Linked DNA regions of Homo sapiens: region 2 is linked to region 1. Evidence: fine-mapped expression QTL. Tissue or cell type: whole blood. Region 1 holds a variant in brackets; the other region holds the start of a gene. All regions are shown on one strand. Distances are from middle to middle.

Region 1 (7,836 bases):
AGAGTTGAAGATTTGAGACACAGCATTGAGTGTGGAGACCTAGAGAAGGCCCCTCAGTGGAGTAGGAAGGACTGGGGTTTCCCAGTCAGCATGCCTCCCGCAAGTTTGAATATTTGTGTCCCTCTCAAATTCATACTGAAACTTAACCTCCAATGCAGCATATTAAGAGGTGGGGCCTTTAGAAGGTGATTAGGTCATGAGAGCTTCTCCCTCGTGAATAGGATTAAGGCCCTAATGAAAGAGGCTTCACACAGCCTGCCTTTTTTACTGTGTGAGGATGCAGTGACCACCTTGGAAGCAAAAAGCAGCCCTCGCTAGACACCGAACCTGCCAGCACCTTCATCTTGGACTTCCTGCTTCTAGAACTGTGAGAAAACGAATTTCTGTTCTTTATAAATTACCCAGTCTCAGGTATTTTTGTCATAACAGCACAGACTAACATACCTAGAGACTTGCATTCCAACTAGAGGCGCAAGCACACCTATAATTCTGCCCTCTCAACTCCTAATGCCAGAGATTGCTAAATAAATACTAAAAATGTAAAAACAGGCCGGGCACAGCCCAGCACTTTGGGAGGCCGAGGCAGGCAGATCACCTGAGGTCAGGAGTTCCAGACCAGCCAGACCACCATGGCGAAACCCCATCTCTACTAAAAAATACAAAAATTAGCCGGGTGTGGTGGTGGGCGCCTGTAATCCCAGCTACTTGGGAGGCTGAGGCACGAGAATCACTTGAACCCAGGAGGCAGAGGTTGCAGTGAGCTGAGATCTTGCCATTGCACTCCAGCCTGGGCAACAGAGCAAGACTCCATCTCAAAAAAAAAAAAAAAAAAAAAAAAAAGAAAGCAAAAACTGTCAAACTCAAAATAAAGGAAATCTTCTTTGACAAAGAATGGAGAGAATAATACAGCCATTAGCAGAGGCTGAGGCTATACAGCTTGAGAGAAGTAGAGACTAGTTCAGGATGGTAGGTGCTGGGACTTCAAAGTCCACGTGGGACAGGTAACCAAGTGTAACCTAGGAACGTCAAGGGACCAGAACCAGACTCTGAGAGGTACACAGGCAGGAAAAATGTAAGTTGCAAACAAAAACAGGATGACATGCAAGCAATCTAAAAAAATACTTTAAAAAATATATATGTGCAATCACCAAAGAGCTAAAGATATTCAGTCTTGCAATGAGAAACTGACTGAAAAGAAGCAAATAAGATTTTACAAATTATACATGCTGGAAATGTAAAAATACAATTATTGAAATATACTCTATGTATGGTATAAGCCCTAGACTGGAGGCAGATGACATAAAAATTTAGCAGGTCTGGAAAACAACTGAGGAATCACCCAGAATGCACCACAGTGATAAAAGAAATATAAAAAAGAAGCTAAGACAGATGGAGGATAGACTGAGAAGCTTTGGCATAATGTTTCATAGCAGTTTTAGAAAAAAAGACTAGTGAGAATACAGGGATGAGAAAACAAAGACGGTGAATTTTTCAGAACTGAAGAAAGATGTGAGATCTCAGAATCAAAGAGCTCATTAAGTTCCAAGAAAGGTACATTTAAAAAAAAAGGCCAGGCCGGGTGCGGTGGCTCATGCCTGTAATCCCAGCACTTTGGGAGGCCGAGGCGGGTGGAACATGAGGTCAGGAGATCGAGACCATCCTGGCTAACATGGTGAGATCCCGTCACTACTAAAAAAATACAAAAAAATTAGCTGGGCCAGGTGGCAGGCGCCTGTAGTCCCAGCTACTCAGGAGGCTGAGGCAGGAGAATGGCGAGAACCCAGGAGGCAGAGGTTGCAGTGAGCCGAGATCGCACCACTGCACTCCAGCCTGGGTGACAGAGCAAGACTCCATCTCAAAAAAAATAGATAGCTGGGCGCGGTGGCTCACCCCTGTAATCCCAGCACTTTGGGAGGCCGAGGCGGGCGGATCATGGGGTCAGGAGATCGAGACCATCCTGGCTAACATGGTGAAACCTTGTCTCTACTAAAAGTACAAAAAATTAGCCGGGCATGGTGGCGGGCGCCTGTAGTCTCAGCTACTTGGGAGGCTGAGGCAGGAGAATGGCATGAACCCGGAGGCAGAGGTTTTAGTGAGCCGAGATCGCGCCACTGCACTCCAGCCTGGGCGACAGAGTGAGACTCCGTCTCAAAACAACAACAACAACAACAAACAAACAAATAAATAAATAAACAGGCCAGGTGCAGTGGCTCATGTCTATAATCCCAGTACTTTGGGAGGCCAACGTGGGCAGATCACTTGAGGTCAGGAGTTTGAGACTAGCCTGGCCAACGTGGTGAAACCCTGTCTCTACTAAAAATACAAAAAAACCCAAAAACCAGAAAAATCAAAATGTAGCGGGGCATGCTGGTGTGTGCCTATAGCCTGTAATCCCAGCTACTTGGAAGGCTGAGGCAGAAGAATCGCTTGAACCTGGGAGATGGAGGTTGCAAATAGCCAAGATCATGCCACTGCACTTCATCCTGAGCGACAGAGCACGACTCCGTCTCAAAAAAATTAAAACAATTTAAAAAACCTCGTGTAGATATATTGCAAATTACGTAAGATAAAACCTAAAGGCCAGGCACGGTGGCTCACGCCTGTAATTCCAGCACTTTGGGAGGCCAAGGTGGGTGGATCACCTGAGGTCAGGAGTTTGAGATCGGCCTGGCCCACATGGCAAAACCCTGTCTGTACTAAAAATACAAAAATTAGCTGGGCTGGTGGCATGCGCCTGTAGTCAAAGCTACTCAGGAGGCTGAGGCAGAAGAATAGCTTAAACCAGGGAGGTGGAGGTTGCAGTTAGCTGAGATCATGCCACTGCACTCCAGCCTTGGCAATAGAGTGAGTGGGATTCACTCTCAAAAGAGAAAGGCAAATATAAGAACTTATTGAGAAACTGCAGGAATGAATATAACCTGTTGTACAACCATGGTTTAACTGTAGATTTTTAGCCTAGCTTTTTTTTTTTTTTTTTTTTTTTTGAGACGGAGTCTAGCTCTGTCGCCCAAGCTGGAGTGCAGTGGCGTGATCTCGGCTCACTGCAACCTCTGCCTCCCAGGTTCAAGTGATTCTCCTGCCTCAGCCTCCCAAGTAGCTGGGACTAAAGGCGCCCGCCACCACGCCTGGCTAATTTTTTGTAGTTTTAGTAGAGACAGGGTTTCACCGTGTTAGCCAGGATGGTCTTGATCTCCTGACCTCATGATCCACCCGCCTCGGCCTCCCAAAGTGTTGGGATTACAGGCGTGAGCCACCACACTGGCCTTTTTTTTTTTTTTTTTTTTTGAGACGGAGTCTTGCTCTGTCTCCCAGGCTGGAGTGCAGTGGCATGACCTTGGCTCACTGCAACCTCCGCCTCCTGGGTTCAAGTGATTCTCCTGCCTCAGCCTCCCGAGTAGCTGGGACTACAGGTGCCCGCCACCATGCCCGGCTAATTTTTTTGTATTTTTAGTAGAGACGGGGTTTCACCATGTTAGCCAGGATGGTCTCGATCTCCTGACTTCGTGATCCACCCGCCTGGGCCTCCCAAATTGCTGGGATTACAGGCGTGAGCCTCTGCACCCAGCCTGCCTAGTGTGTTTCTTTGGAACTTATCAAAATGTCTCTGGAGGCCGGGCACGATGGCTTCATGCCTGTAATCCCAGCACTTTGGGAGGCCAAGGCAGGCGGATAACTTGAGGTCAGGAGTTTGAGACCAGCCTGGCCAGCATGGTGAAACCCTGTCTCTACTAGAAATACAAAAATTAGCCGGGCGTGGTGGCACACATCTGTAATCCCAGCTACTAGGGAGGCTGTGGCATAAGAATCGCTTGAACCCAGGAGGCAGAGGTTGCAGTGAGCCGAGATTGCGCCACTGTACTCCAGCCTGGGTGACAGAGC[G/A]AGAATCCATCTTAAAAAAAAAAAAAGGCTCTGGAACATTTCATTTCCTGTTTTGTTACTGACCTGTGACTCTGTAAAAGTCTACTTTCGCAATTTGGATTAATAATTTTATGAATGCAAATTGGAGATGCTGTTCAAAAAAAAAAAAATAGAAAAGTCTTACAAAGGAAAGACAATCACAGTGATAGCAGACATCTAGTTAGCTACAGTAGACACCTGGAGTCCATTCAAACCTAGAGAAAACTCAGCCTTGAATTTGCTATCAGCTACACCATTCAAGAGCACGGGGGAAATGAAGACATTTTCAGACATGCAAAGACTCAACAGTTTGCAATGTACAAAACTTTAGTGGAAGAAAGTAGGTGTACTTAAGCAAAAAGAGAATTTGTCTAGGGGCATAAACTAATGAGAGGGAGGGTACACCTAAATACTGGCTATAAATGTAATACTAGTTTATAGTTTAAAAAGAGGCAGGAACTAAAATTCTAGAAAGCAATATTGTGAAGAGTTATTCAAGGCTGGGCACAGTGGCTCACGCCTGTAATCCCAGCACTTTGGGAGGCTGAGGTGGGCAGATCACCTGAGGTCAGGAGTTCGAGACCAGTGTGGCCAACTTAGTGGAACGCCATCTCTACTAAAAAATAAAAAATAAAAAAATCCAAAAACAGGTACTAAGAGGACAGACCTTGCATCAAATGGTGCTAGGAAAACTGGACATCCACAAGCAAAACCATACATCATATATTTTGTATATGGTGTATATACAAAAAAATTACACCATATACAAAAATTAACCCAAAATGTTCTTGCCACAAAAACAACAAAAAATTGGGTAACTACGTGAAATGATGGATGTGTTAATTTGCTTCACTATAGTAACCTTTTTACTACCTGTATGTAGCCTCATAACATCATGTATACCTTATACCAAATTAAATTGATTTAAAAAGAAATTTAACCCAAAATGGATCAAAAACTTTACTTGTAAGAGCTAAAACGATAACTTTGGGAGGCCAAGGCGGGTGGATCACCTGAAGTCAGGAGTTAAAGACCAGCCTGGGCAGCAAGGATAAATCCCGTCACTACTAAAAATACAACAATTAGCCATGCGTGGTGGCGCACGCCTGTTATCCCAGCTACTCGGGAGACTGAGGCAGGAGAATAGCTTGAACCCGGGAAGCGGAGGTTATGGTGAGCAGAGATGGCACCATTGCACTCCAGCCTGGGCAACAAGAGTGAAACTCCGTCTCAAAAAAAAAAGCTAAAACGAAAGCTCCTAGAAGAAAACAGGAAAAGCTTCATGGCATTAGATTTGGCAACGATTTCTTAGATATGACACTAAAAACACAGGCAACAAAATATATAAAGTGGACTACAACAAAGTCATCTTTTCTTAAAAAAATCTCGTTATCTTACTCCCGCAAAACTATTTAAAAAAATTAAGTTCAAAGTTCTCCAAAATGTACCATACCCTGGGGATTACTCTGAACTTTGTTCATTTGTTTTCTTTTAATTCGGCTTTTTTGGTTGCCTTTCACCTACTTTTTCGCAGAGCCCTCCGCTGGGGCCTTCACTTGGGCAAACAACTATCGTAGTCGAACAGCTTTGACCTAACAATTTCCTCGTACCCAAGATGATCGCTTTTCCAGACAACTTAATAAACTTTGGCTTTAATGGATGACTGGATGCAGAATAAAATACATAAAAATAAACCTCAGCTGCTCAGCAACGACTGAAAAACCACCACCGGGCAATCCCTCCCCATGGCCACCGAGCAAAGTTCCACCGCCTCCCCTACGCCGACCGCCGGGCTCCCGGGGTCGGACAGCCCCGGGCCACTTCCGGGCCTTCCCGGAAGTCCCTGTCACTTAACAACCGAAGTAACCCGCAATGCGGAAGGGCGAGGGGATTGCGAGTCACCGAGTTTCCCGCGCGGCTTGAGGTACTGGGGAACCGGAATCCCCCACCGGCCCAATCATGTTGCTGCTGGGGTCTCTCCGGTGCCCAGCAGTGGTTGTCAGTAAGCGGGCGGCACTCCCTTCCGATACGTCTTTTCTTTTTTCATTTTTGAGACGGAGTCTCGCTGTGTCACCCAAGCTGGAGTGCAGTGGCGCGATCTCGGCTCAGTACAAACTCCGCCTCCCGGGTTCAAGCGAGTCTCCTGCCTCAGCCTCCTGAGTAGCTGGGATTACAGGCGCGAGCCACTGCGCCCGGCTAATTTTTTTTTGTATTTTTAGTAGAGACGGGGCCTCGCCATGCTGGCCAGGCTGGTCTTGAACTCCTGACCTCAAGTGATCCGCCCGCCTCGGTCTCCCAGAGTGCTGGGATTACAGGCGAGAGACACCGCGCCTGGCCCCCTTCCAACTTTCTTAACGGGAAAGGCTGCTACCATTTCTTGAGCACCTATGTGTCAGGCTCCATCAGGCACGTCACAGTCTAACCTGATAATTACACAACCCATGTCACTGACAAGGAAGCCAGGTTCGGAGGGGTTGAGGCCCGCAACCTGAGGGAGGTGACTCCGGGACACACAATTAGTCCTGCTTTGCTGAAGGAAAGATATGCAGCCCACCAGTCGGAGGCTGGAGAAGGAGCAGCAGCAGCTTAAACCTTAACCCAGAGTTATTTTTATTTTCCAGAACGTGTTAGGAACTAGTACTTAAATAATCTCAAGTCCCTGAGGGGCCAGAGATCCCACCATGCAAAATAGCAAACAGACCCAAGACTTGGGGAGAGGCGGTGAGTGCATCAGAAATGGATGGGTACATCTGATTCCCACCACGCGGGGCTCAGCTTAGTTAGCAGGAGACCTTCAGACTGAGAAAAAATGCAAGTCTTTTTTTGGCCTCTAATATCTGGGAAGGATGGAGGGAGCTCAGGAGACACAGAAAAGATGGCGTATGAATCCTGTCCGGCCTGAACGAGGCTGGAGTTGTGCCTCTGGATAGCTTCAAGCACTGATCAGATTGTCAGCCCCCGCTGCTTGAACAGATGCTTTAGAGCCTCTTCCAGTTGCCGGTTTGTTCCCTGAAGCCCCTTCACCACCTGCGCTGCCCACTCGAAGTATTCCTGGACTCGATGTTCTGACCATCCTGCATAAGAGTCGACAGAAACTTGCTAGCGTGATGTCAAGGAAAGCACTGCCTTTTCCCCACTTCCTGGCAAGCTTGGTTCAAGGCCATGAGTTCCTGATGGAATGAGCTGTCCTGAAAACTTCCCCTTGGCCCAGCTATTGTATTTTTACTGTATGAAAGAAGATCAAAGAGTGGTCCAGTAGGATTAATTTGGGAATTAAGAATGCCCAGGGTTTTTCAGGGGAACTGACCAACATGTGTCTTCAGAAGGCGGCATCCCCCTCCCTTTTCCCTTACAGCCCATACGAAAGCGTACCCTCTGGGGTGCAGCGATTCAGGTCCCTCAGATTGTACAGCTTGTCTGCCAGCTTCACCAGTTTGGCCCCGGGGCTACTGTGGGGCGCTTGCTCCACCTGCAGCCTCTTTCTCTCCAGCTTGGGCAGAGTCTTGTCATCTGTTACCTCCTCCACCAGGCGCCGCACTTGTGCCCCAAAGTGTAGCTCCACCTCATCCAGGGTGGTGTCTGTGTCCTCCACCGTGTCATGGAGCAGGGCCGCCTGGGGACAAGTTCCCACTCAGCCCTGAGATGTCAGCCAAGGGTTGCCCATTGCTGAATGGGGCCCCTAATCCCCATCCCAGGCTCCTGGCAGAGAAGGGGGAAAGTTACCTGTAACACCACAATGTCAGTGATTCCCGCCTCGTGGGTCAGGATCCGTGCCACACCTGACGGGGAGGGGCAAAGCAGGAAGTCAGGTCGGAGGTAGTCCCAAGGCGGTGTGTTGTGGGTTTTGGAGAGCCAGATGTGGCCCCTTGTGGACTCTGACTAGCTGGGTGACCTTGGTCAAGTACCTTACCCTCTGGGAGCCAACCGACAAAGGGAACG
Region 2 (6,732 bases), 26 kb before region 1:
ATACTTATGATTCTATTTTATGAAGTTCAAGAACAGGCAAAACTAAGTTACAGAGAAGTCAAAGCAGTGCTTATGTCTGGAGGGTCCTGATGGAAAGGCGTGTGAAGATGGAGGGGAAAAGGTTCACCATGGTGCCCTTACAACCATGTGTGTCTCTACATGGGCCACATAGGCAAGGCTGGACCACAGTCTGACAGCCACTATGGTGTGCTTAGGGACTGCTTGGCCACTTAACACGGGAACATTTTGGGTAGATGGGAATGTCCTGCATTTTGATCTGGGTGGTGATTATGCTTGTGTATGTATTTATCAAAACCCATCAAGCTGTACACTTAAGATTTGTGCCACACAGTGTAAACTGTACCTAAATTTTTAAAAAAGAACCACCAGACAACAAACAAGAATTCTTGAAAATTGAGATTATCAGGCTGGGCGCGGTGGCTCATGCCTGTAATCCCAGCACTTTGGGAGGCTGAGGTGGGCAGATCACCTGAGGTTGGGAGTTCGAGACGAGTCCAACCAACATGGAGAAACCCTATCCCTACTAAAAATACCAAATTAGCCAGGCGTGGTGGCAGATGCCTGTAATCCCAGCTACTCAGGAGGCTGAGGCAAGAGAATCACTCGAATCCAGAGGCAGAGGTTGTGGTGAGTGGAGATCACGCCATTGCACTCCAGCCTGGGCAACAAGAGCAGAACTCCCTCTCAAAACGAAGGAAAAAAGAAGATTATCACCAAAATGAGGCTGAGCACGGTGGCTCACGCCTGTAATCCCAACACTTTGGGAGGCCGAGGTGGGCAAATCACCTGAGGTCAGGAGTTCAAGACCAGCCTGGCCAACATGGTGAAACCCCATCTCTACTAAAAATACAAAAATTAGCTGGGCATGGTGGTGCGCGCTTCTAATCCCAGCTACTCGGGAGGCTGAAGCACAAGAATCACTTGAACCTGGGAAGCAGAGGTTGCAGTGAGCTGAGATCACGCCACCACTCTTCAGCCTGAGCGACAGAGTGAGACTTTGTCTCAAAAAAAAAAAAAAAAAAAAAAAAATTACCAAAATGGAAAATTCAATAGAAGGGCTGGAAAATAAATCTCCCAGAACACAAGGCAAAATATGAAAAGACAAAGAGGATGATGAGCCCAGTCTAGGTCTAACACCCTAATAACAGGCATTCCAGTGAGTAAACAAACCTGGAAAGCTGTTCCTGATGGTGATAAAAGAAGTGGCAGTCGAGTGCAGTGGCTTATCCCTGTAATCACAGCACTTTGGGAAGCTGAGGCAGGAGGATCAAGGCCAGGAGTTCGAGGCTGCAGTGAACCATGATCACACCACTGCACTCCAGCCTGGGTGACAGACAAGAGCTTGTCAAAAACAATAAAAAAATAAAAAGAGCTGGGCACTATGGCTCATATCTGTAATCCTGGAACTTTGGAAGGCCAAAGTGGGGGGATCGCTTGAGCCCAGGAGTTGGAGAACAGCCTGGGCAACACAGTGAGACCCTCCCACCCACCACAAAAAATAAAAAAATTAGGGCCGGGCACAGTGACTCACGCCTGTAATCCCAGCACTTTGGGAGGCTGAGGCAGGTGGATCACCTGAGGTCAGGAGTTCGAGACCAGCCTGGACAACATGGTAAAACCCCATCTCTACTAAAAACACAAAATTAGCCAGGTATGGTGGCACGTGCCTGTAGTCCCAGCTATTTGGGAGGCTGAGGCAGGAGAATCGCTTGAACCTGGGAGGCGGAGGTTGCAGTGAGCCAAGATCGCGCCATTGCACTCCAGCCTGGGCAACAAGAACGAAACTCCGTCTCAAAAAATAAAAATAAAAAAATTAAAAAATAAAAAAATTAGCTGGGTGTAGTGGCACATACCTGTAAGGCTCAGCTACTCAGGAGGCTGAAGTGGGAGGATGGCTTGAGTCTGGAAGGTCAAAGATGCAGTGAGCTGAGATGGTGCCACTGCACTCCAGCCTGGGAAACAGTGAGATATTGTCTCAAAAAAAAGAAATGGTCGTTAAATAAGAGATAGCATTGATCATTCTCAGCAAACTAACACAGGAACAGAAAACCAAACACCGCATGTTCTCACTAATAAGTGGGAGTTAACAATGAAAACACATGGACACAGAGAGGGGAACATCACACACCGGGGCCTGTCGGGGGTTGGGGGCAAGGTGAGGGAGAGCACCTAATGTATGTGGGGCTTAAAACCTAGATGATGGGTTGATGGGTGCAGCAAACCACCATGGCACATGTATACCTATGTAACAAATCTGCATGTTCTGCACATGTATCCCAGAACTTAAAGGAAAATTTTTAAAAATGAGATGGCATTATATATCTCATTAATCAGCTAAAACATTGTTTAAGCAATATCCAGCAGTTTGTTATTGATGGTGTAAACTGGTACAGTCTTTTGGGGGAGCGATAGTGTCATCAGTCATCTCTGTCCTTATCTTTTGCCCGGGTAACTTCACTGTTGCAAATTCATCATAAAATAACGTCTTAATCTGTTCGGGCTGTTAGGACAAAATACCATAAAGTAGGTAGTTTATCAACAACAGAAATGTATTTTCTCACAGTTCTGGAGGCTGGAAAGTCCATGATAAGGCATAAGCGGATTCAGTGTCGGGTGAGGGCCTGCCTGTGGTGCACAGATAGTGCCTTCTAGCTGTGTTCTCACGTGGTTGAAGGGGCCGACTCTCGGGGTCATTTGATACCGGCACTAATCCCATTCATGAGAGCTCTCCCTTCAAACTCTGTTCACCCCCAAAGGCCCATCTCCTAATACCATCATCACCTTGAGGGATTAGGATTTGAACATGAATTTGGGGGGTCACATTCAGATAATGTTATATATAACTTAAAAAGAACAAAAATGTGGAATTCATGGAGATGTTCATTGCAGTATGGATTACACTGAAAAACTGTAAACAACCTAGATGCCCAGTAAAAGGGAAACAGCCAAGAAAAGTCTGTGTCTTGTTCACTCGCTGGCAGGAAACATAGAGCAGGCACGGAAAGGAAAGGGACTCGAGGAATGCGCTGTACCGACAGGAGGCAGCACCCCTTTGCCCGAGGGGCGCAACGACAGAGACCTAAGGCTACCTGGGCCGGAGCCGGGTGAGGCCGCGGAGAACGCACCCCGCTACGCGTCTGCCGAGACGGAGGCGGGCGTTTCGACCACTGCCCGATCATGCGCTTACTCAAGTAGGATTCCGAAAAAATTCAGTCGCGCGTCCCTCCTGAGGTTCCGCAGCTGGCCAGGCCCGGCCCGGGCTGGTGCGGCTGCGCACTGCAGCCCAGCGGAGCGGGCCCGGGAGGAGCCGGGCGGGGACCGCGGCGGCCAGAGCTCCTGTCAGCTCCGCCGGGCACACGCAGGCCGGGGCGGGCGGCGCGGCTGTCCCCGCCCCGCACGCTGCTGGGCCCGGCAGCTTCAGAGGCTGGCGGACCCGCGCGGGGCCGGCGCAGCGGAGCGCGCCGGCGGCCCGGGGCCCAGCGGGAGCGCGGCAGCGGCGCGCGGAGCAGGGGGCTACGGGTGGGCGGGCGCCCGCCTTCGCCTGCGTCGCTGCCTGCACGCGGGCCGCCGTCCCCGGGCGTGTGAGAGCCGGCAGCTCGGCCGACTGGGCCCGGAGCGGCGCGGAGGCCGGGCGCTGACGGTAACGGGCCGGGTGCGCGCGCGGGAGGGCTCCGGCTGCCCCGACAGAGGCCGGGCTCGGGCGGCGGGAGTGCGAGCGCCACTGCGGCGTCAGAGGGGCCAGGAAGGGACAGGAGGCTGCCTGAGGCCCGTACCTGGCGCCTGTCTCTGCGGTCCCCGGGGCCGACGAAGTCGGAGCGGGTGGGGAGGGAGCCGGGCGGGCGGCCAGAGACCTGGCGGCAGGTGCCTGCCCTCTGTGATCCAACTCTCTCCCCAGCTCCACCCACATTGGCCTAGACCCAGTCTCTAAGGGCTGAAAATATTGCCCGGAAGCTCCCGAGCAGAATCAGATCGCGCTAAGTAGGGCACAACGCAGAGGCGACAAAGCTCCTCGGCCCCAGGGCCCGCGGAGCAGACTCCGGAGCGCGGTCCCGCCCACGCTCGGCTCCGCAGTTAGCGTCCTCCTTCCTCCTGAGCAGGCAAGCGGAGCCCGAGGGCGGTGGCGGCGGGGGGCACGGGTCCCCTGAAGTTGCCTCGCAGCTGAGCACTGGGCCCCGTCTCTCCCTTCCCAGGGGGCCTTCGGCGTCACTGCAGGCTTCCTAGGGGTCCCCTAAGTGCTCTGCAAACCGCGGCTGGAAGTTTCCCACTGCAGTGAACAGTAGAGAAACAGGGAGAACACACAGGGCTTGCTTTATGCTAGAAACACAAGCATCTTTCTTCTTTATTAGAAAGAAACTCATTCTGTGTTTCTGAGAAAGGATCGTGCCAGGCACTGTTTCTGGTGAGTGCCAGTTTGACCCGAAAGGGCACTGAGAAAGGCTTTCCTATCAGTCTCTTTGGGTTCTGGCTAAACTTTTAAATCAAACAAAATAGAGACTAGCTTATTCACCTGAAACTAGAAGCACATGGCCGAGGAGCCTGAACAGGCACCTCCTATCTAGGCAGGGAAGCTGTGTAATCAGGAGCTTGTGTGGTGCGCTCCAGTCGGAGCTGGGACTCTTATCCTGGGCCCGTTTTTCATAGCACCAGCCAAAGGAGAGCGTCCTCTCCACCCTAGCGGCAGAGCTGCTACCAGGACCAGGTGGGCCAGCCTCAGATGTGCTGCTTGTGCTACTTGGAGCCAGGCAAATGGGTGTTCCTTTGGAACAGCCCTCAGGAACTCACTGGGGTATTTGGTGGAAAGACTGCCACGGGCATTTTGCATGTTGGAGCTACAGATGGTGTCCTTCCTGCCAGGTGTGTGTGGAGGCCAGTATGAAGCTGAAAAAGCAGGTGACAGTGTGTGGGGCTGCCATCTTCTGTGTGGCAGTCTTCTCGCTCTACCTCATGCTGGACCGAGTGCAACACGATCCCACCCGACACCAGAATGGTGGGAACTTCCCCCGGGTGAGTCGTGCCTGGTTGCTAATTTCTTTGTATACAAGTCACCTGGGCTCAGGGTATGCACCTCCCACCCCGCCGCCTCCCCTCCCACCCCCCGCTGGAGGGTAATGTCAGTACAGGACAGGAGCCTTCCTTCCCAATAGTCAGGTTTTGTAGAAACCCTCAGCTAAAAACAGTGATGGCGAAAAGAAGGAAGGAAGAAAAAATGTCAATGGCAATGAGTATTGTCACTCTGTTCTCCTGAATTCTTTTCTTTCTTTTTTTTTTTTTTGAGACAGAGTCTCGCTCTGTCGCCCAGCCTTGAGTGCAGTGGCGCGATCTTGGCTCACTGCAACCTCCGCCTCCCAGGTTCAAGCAATTCTCCTGCCTCAGCCTCCCAAGTAGCTGGGACTACAGGAGCCTGCCACCATGCCCGACTAATTTTTGTATTTTTAGTAGAGACGAGACGAGGTATCGCCATGTTGGCCAGGCTGGTCTTGAACTCCTGACCTCAGGTGATCCACCCACCTTGGCCTCCCAAAGTGCTGGGATTACAGGTGTGGGCCACCGCGCCCAGCCCCTCCTGAATTCTTGGCAGACATTGCTAATTGATTGCAGCATTCTTTGCCATTAAGCCCCGCTGAAATCCTCAGCACAGGCAACACCGATTGTTGAGAATAGGTAGGTGAAAGGAAATCTTTGCCATCCCTGAGCTAGAGAGTGATGGTTCTCCCAACCCAAGTGGAGTGTAGTCCTCAGTGGTGATCTGCACAGCTCCCTTTATCTGAACGGTGTCATCTATCCCTCTAGGCTCATGGTCTGGCTTTGACTGATGAGGGAAGAATTGTACTCAGGCCTCAGCTGGTAGACCCCAAGCAGAGACCCTCCCTGTGGCATAAGGAGCTGTGTGTGATTGCTTTCTGGTTTTTTGGCAGAGCCAAATTTCTGTGCTGCAGAACCGCATTGAGCAGCTGGAGCAGCTTTTGGAGGAGAACCATGAGATTATCAGCCATATCAAGGACTCCGTGCTGGAGCTGACAGCCAACGCAGAGGGCCCGCCCGCCATGCTGCCCTACTACACGGTCAATGGCTCCTGGGTGGTGCCACCGGAGCCCCGGCCCAGCTTCTTCTCCATCTCCCCGCAGGACTGCCAGTTTGCTTTGGGGGGCCGGGGTCAGAAGCCAGAGCTGCAGGTAAGAGTCAGAGCTGGCAGGGACGTACAGTGGCCACGACTGGGGTACTGAGCTGCAGTTCACCTGGCAGATGCTCACTGTGTCGGAGGAGCTGCCGTTTGACAACGTGGATGGTGGTGTGTGGAGGCAAGGCTTCGACATCTCCTACGACCCGCACGACTGGGATGCTGAAGACCTGCAGGTGTTTGTGGTGCCCCACTCTCACAATGACCCAGGTGAGGGCCCTGCAGACTCCTGGGAGCTGGAGTGTGGAGTGGGATTTCTGATGGCCAATACAAGGGAGGGACGTCGAAGAAGATGGTGGCATCCTCAGGGGACCCTACATTGGCTCCCTAGGCTGGATCAAGACCTTTGACAAGTACTACACAGAGCAGACCCAACACATCCTCAATAGCATGGTGTCTAAGCTGCAGGAGGACCCCCGGCGGCGCTTCCTCTGGGCAGAGGTCTCCTTCTTCGCCAAGTGGTGGGACAACATCAATGTCCAAAAGAGAGCGGCAGTCCGAAGGCCAGTACCAGGCGGGGAGGCATGGGAGGG

Evidence for each region. PIP is the estimated chance that this variant, and not a neighbour inherited with it, causes the effect.
Region 2: MAN2A2 starts here. The variant in region 1 is fine-mapped to the expression of MAN2A2 in whole blood (TOPMed, PIP above 0.99).

Annotation. Positions count from the first base shown.
Region 1 is chr15:90,924,435-90,932,270 of GRCh38, forward strand. It overlaps HDDC3 (HD domain containing 3), which reads right to left. Exons shown (of 4, transcript NM_001286451.2): 2 at 7,621-7,676; 3 at 7,270-7,510; 4 at 5,534-6,971. The coding sequence ends at 6,841. It also overlaps a transcript of UNC45A not described here. Among named protein-coding and RNA genes, the nearest start is that of HDDC3, 4.2 kb to the right of the region's middle. RefSeq lists enhancers at 5,423-5,652, 7,283-7,512. The variant G/A (reference allele first, on the strand shown) is at 3,880.
Region 2 is chr15:90,899,315-90,906,046 of GRCh38, forward strand. It overlaps MAN2A2 (mannosidase alpha class 2A member 2), which reads left to right and starts at 3,988. Exons shown (of 23, transcript NM_006122.4): 1 at 3,988-4,118; 2 at 4,876-5,025; 3 at 5,937-6,194; 4 at 6,265-6,409; 5 at 6,531-6,702. The coding sequence starts at 4,894. RefSeq lists enhancers at 3,029-3,078, 4,919-4,978 and silencers at 3,249-3,518, 3,539-3,968.